2 separate regions of the Homo sapiens genome follow, and region 2 is linked to region 1. The links come from fine-mapping of genetic effects on gene expression. Tissue or cell type: whole blood. Region 1 holds a variant in brackets; the other region holds the start of a gene. All regions are shown on one strand. Distances are from middle to middle.

Evidence for each region. PIP is the estimated chance that this variant, and not a neighbour inherited with it, causes the effect.
Region 2: it holds the start of PTPRC, and the variant in region 1 is fine-mapped to the expression of PTPRC in whole blood (TOPMed, PIP above 0.99). The same link has a PIP of 0.9 or more in lung.

The regions. Positions count from the first base shown.
Region 1 is chr1:198,709,537-198,712,231 of GRCh38, forward strand. It overlaps PTPRC (protein tyrosine phosphatase receptor type C), which reads left to right. Exons shown (of 33, transcript NM_002838.5): 11 at 151-288. Among named protein-coding and RNA genes, the nearest start is that of PTPRC-AS1, 44 kb to the left of the region's middle. The variant G/A (reference allele first, on the strand shown) is at 1,350.
Region 2 is chr1:198,637,683-198,640,377 of GRCh38, forward strand. PTPRC (protein tyrosine phosphatase receptor type C) reads left to right here and starts at 1,358. Exons shown (of 33, transcript NM_002838.5): 1 at 1,358-1,455; 2 at 1,544-1,659. The coding sequence starts at 1,587.

The sequences.
Region 1 (2,695 bases):
TTTTTAGGGTTTTTTATTATTTTGGTAATTTCCACAGATGTTTCAATCTGATAAATATTAAATAGAGAATTATAAATGTGAAATTAGAAAATAAATGTGTGCGTGAAATATTGCATCGATATATTCATTCGAAATATTTCTTTATTTCAGGTAATATGATATTTGATAATAAAGAAATTAAATTAGAAAACCTTGAACCCGAACATGAGTATAAGTGTGACTCAGAAATACTCTATAATAACCACAAGTTTACTAACGCAAGTAAAATTATTAAAACAGATTTTGGGAGTGAGTATGTTACTTGCATTTATATGTAAAATTGCTTCTCTCTTCATGTTCTTATAATTATTTGAGAATCATAGGAAATGAATTGTCTTTTTGCTGTTTTTGATACTTTTTAAGCATATGCTTTTTATTTCAATGAAGCGCAATTTATCTATTTTTACTTCTTTTGCTTATGTTTTTGGTGTCGTATATGAAAGTCCATTGCCAAGTCATGCAGATTTATCCATATGTTTTGTTCTAAAAATTTTATAGCATTGGCTCTTAAATTTAGCTCTGTTACCCACTTTGAGTTAATATTTGTATATGGTGTGAGGTAACAGTCTAATTTCATTTTGTTGCATATGGCCATCTAATTTTTCCAGCGCCATTTGCTGAAAATACTATTTATTCCCCCACTGAATAGTCTTGCCATTCTTATCAAAAATTAGTTGACCATAATGATGGGTTTATTTCTGAACTTTCAGTTTTATTTTATTGATTTATATGTCATACTTACACTGTCGATTACTGCTGCTTTGTAGTAAATTTTGAAACTGGAAACTGTAAGTTCCCCCAAATTGTTACTTTTCCTCAAGATTGTTTAGAATATCTAAGGGAACTTGGAATTCTGTATGAATTTTAGGATCAACTTTTCAATTTTTATAAAGAAGCCATCTGGGATTCTTTCAGGGATTGCATTGAATCTGTGGATAAATTTGGGAAATATTGCCATCTTAACCATGTTAGTCTTCCAGTTCATGAACACAAGATATCTTTCCATTAATTTATGTCTTCTTTAATTTATTTTCAAAATGTTTTGTAGTTTTCAGTGCATTAGTGTTATAATTCTTCTGTTAAATTTATTTCTAGTTTAAGTTTATTCCTGGTTATAATGCTGTTGTTTTCTTAATCACATTTTCAGGTTTGTTACTAATGTACAAAAGTACAATTGATTTTTCTGTATTGATCTTGCAGTCTGTCACATTACTGAATTTGTTTATTAATGATAATATTGAGAAATTTTTGACAAAACTTATAAATGTAATTCTAAATTTTGTTTTGTTTTGATTTTGAGACGGAGTCTC[G/A]CTCTGTTGCCCAGGCTGGAGTGCAGTGGCGTGATCTCGGCTCACTGCAACCTCTGACTCCTGGGTTCAAGCAATTCTCCTGCCTCGGCCTCCCAAGTAGCTGGGACTACAGGTGCGTGCCACCACGCCCTGCTAATTTTCTGTATTTTTAGTAGAGATCAATCTCCTGACCTCATGATCCGCCCACCTTGGCCTCCCAAAGTGCTGGAATTACAGGCATGAGCCACCATGCCCGGCCCGTGATTCTAAGTTTTATGTAAAAAGGATAGTTGAAGGCTAAAGAGGCTGCCTAAATCCTTGTCTCCTCATACTTCTCCAAAATAATATATAGCTACAAGAACAGCAAATAAAACTATGTAAAAACTATATCCTCAGCATAACTAGAAAATTTTAATGTATTTTTATTAGTACCACAATTATTACATTCTTTATAATCAATGCAACAAAATAGAAATCCCAGAAAACTATGTTTTATATTTGAAAACAGCACAAAATGTTTTCAGTGGGGGAAAAATAGTCTTTTCAACTAATGATCCTGGTATCTCTGTAGAAAAAAAATGAACATCAGCTCTCACCTCTCAACAAACACAAAAATTAATTCAAAATGGATTCCAGACCTAAATACTAAAGCTATAATTTAAAAAATTCTAATCAAAGACATAGGAGAAAATGTGTAGCTTTAGCAAAGATTTCCTAGGGCACAAAAGCAAGAAACATAAAACTTTTTTGATGAATTGGAGTGCATAAAAATTGAATATTCCTGCTCTTTGGATGAGGCCACTAAGGAAATAAAAAAGCAATAAATAGTTTGTAAAAAATCAAAATTAATTTTTTCAACAACAGAAGTTTTTCCAGAATATACAGAGAGCTCTTTCAGCTGCAAAATAAGGACTAAAACAGCTCAATTGAAAATGGACAAACATTTTTAATATATACTTCACAAAAGAGGATACACAGGTGGTTAATAAGCACATTAAATGATGCTCAGCATCATTAGTTAACTGAGAAATACAAATTAAAACAACACTGAGATGATAATACTATACATCCATTAAAATGGCTAAACTTAAGAATACGGATACTACTAACTATTGGTCAGGATGTGCAGCCATGACCCAGGAATTTCACTCCAGGTATTTACCAAAGAGGAAACATGACAAAGCAGATGCATTCATAGTAGCCAAAACCTGGAAACAGCCCAAATGTGTATTCACTGTTGAATCCTAGGTAAAATGTGGTGTATCTTTACAATAACTACTGATAATTTTTTAAAATTCTAACTATGACACATGCAACTAAGTGAATGAATCTTCAGAACATTACATTGAGTGCAATATGTTAGGAGT
Region 2 (2,695 bases), 72 kb before region 1:
TGCAAGATCTTAGGCAACTCAACTAACCTCTCTGAACATCACAGATAAAATGGGGAATAATAACATTATCTAGCTCAAGGGTATCGTACAAATTATACAATATATGTAAAGTGCAAAGCATAGTTCCTGCACATAGTAAGTGCTCCATAAGTTAAATATAATAATAATCATAGTAAAATAATATTCTTAACTACAATCTTATTAAAAGGTTATTACCTAGAGTTTAAGCTGTGGGGTTATTTCCATTTGCACAAAGTGTGATAGAAATTTGGCTCTGTAGTTCCTAGCAGCCAATGTAAGAGTAAAACAAAAAAGTTTGTAAGTATCAAAAGATTTATTTACTTAAATATAAGAACCCTACAATAATGCTTCCAAACTAGGGTTTGCAGAATTACCACAAGGGCTCTGTCTGTCTAAAAGTCCCCCAAGCATTATCTATTGTTCAAATAAATGAGTTGCACATGTGTGTACTTTTATTTTTAAAGGCATATAGATATTGTATTAATAAAACCAATTCATCTAATTGTATTGTTGAATTTATACTTTTTGCCAGTAAGCATTTTCCTAATAGATGGACTTAACTAAGAACATCAGAATGGTGAAGAGCATTGTGTTAATACAATTCATTGTCTTATTTGTTAAAAAAGTTGAAAAAGTATTGCTGAGAAAAAGGAAACAAGTTAACTTTTGTTAAAGGTATCTCTTGGTTTTCACTGTCCTTTCCCTCATCAGTAGCGCCAAGAACATCTTAAGTCACAGAAACATTAGTTTTTGGAAGCAGGGTTTGCTGTAACTATAGTAGAAATGACATTCTGATTCCACTCCTAGCTTCACAAGGATATCTGTGAAAGATTTGGGGCAAAACTGTTAAGCTGTCTGAAAGTGCTTTTGCATAAGAAATGGGTTTTACTGCTAAAACTGTCATATTGCTGAGTTTTGAATGCCCTAATGGTAAATGATACTGGGTTGCCAAAAATAACCAGATTAGTAGTTTTTTCATTCATTTGGCCGTCTCAGTAAGTCAAATATTGATACTTTCTACTAAGTCATCTTGCCAACACCCATTTTGTTATACTTATGCTGAATCTGTTTGTCATCTCTTAAGTAAGAAAATTATTGATTATTTTGTGGGGATTTAATTTAAAAAAAATGGTAATGGATACTGTAAAGGAGCATTATTTGGATGGTTTAAAAACATCTTCCTTGATGGGAAAATCTTTTAAAAGGCTTTCTAACTTGGTGTAATTACTTGAATTAAGGAAGTGCAATGCCATTCTACTGACTTAGAACAACTTTTTTGACTTCCTGCAAAGAGGACCCTTACAGTATTTTTGGAGAAGTTAGTAAAACCGAATCTGACATCATCACCTAGCAGTTCATGCAGCTAGCAAGTGGTTTGTTCTTAGGGTAACAGAGGAGGAAATTGTTCCTCGTCTGATAAGACAACAGTGGAGAGTATGCATTTATTTATTTACTTTTACATTTTTGATTCGTTTTTACAGAGAAAAACTTCTACAGAGATAACAATTATTTTGCTTTTCAGAAGGACGCATGCTGTTTCTTAGGGACACGGCTGACTTCCAGATATGACCATGTATTTGTGGCTTAAACTCTTGGCATTTGGCTTTGCCTTTCTGGACACAGAAGTATTTGTGACAGGTAAGTACAAGGATATTAATATTTTTTAAATTATTTTTTCTCTTTTGGAGGAATGTTTGAAATAGACATAAAAATAATTTAAATGTGTTGGTAACTGGAAGTGAGAAGCCTGCTGTAAACCATCAAGATTGTTGTCTCAGGGAGACATAGCTAGTTGTGTGACAGAATACATTGTTTCTGTTTACAAAGACATAAATGTTTCGGGACAAAAAATACAATTTTAAAAGGAAAGCAATGTCTATCTGTATCTTTATTTACAACTGTTCAAAGATATTACAAAAGCAACATTATTACTTAACTTCCAAAGTGACAATAACACACATTTATAAAAGCCTGAGAATTTTTTAATGATAAAATAAGTGAGTTTTTATTCTTTTAACAAATTTGATCTTTTAAAAAGTCATAAAACAGCTTTGGTTGTATGTAAGCCACTCCCTCTTTTCAGACCTGAAGTTTGCTTCCTCAAATTTTGAATTTAATTGACATATTTTATTGAATACTTGGGTATATAATAGTTCAAAAATATATTGAGATATTTAGTAAAATATTAACTTTCTGCAATTTTTATCACAGAATGTATTTTAAATCAAGTTTTTAGTTTCTTGTTAATAGTTTTAATACATTTTTGCTTTAGAAATTCTTGTGGAGCCACCGCCCTTCCTGGGTGGTGGGTAAATATTACAGCCTTGATGAGATAGAAATATTTAAACTCTTAAAAATCATGCAAATGCTGTATTCAGTAGGAAAATGCAACTAGTTGGACTTCCAGTGCCTATTAAAGTTTGAAATCTTTGCACATTTATGGTCTATTCAATGGATAGTTCTTGAGCGGCGTCAATATGAATCATGAGTACATTTCAATAGATTATAGAATGTAACTAATAATTAATATTTAATATTTCTCTTTATGATGTAGTATCTAAAAGGACATTGAAAATAAAATTTTTGTAGAAATTCCAAAAAGTATAAAAAGTATTTTAAAACAACTTGCTTATTACAATTCACTTTGAAGTCTTTTTTTGACTTTTACCGTTCT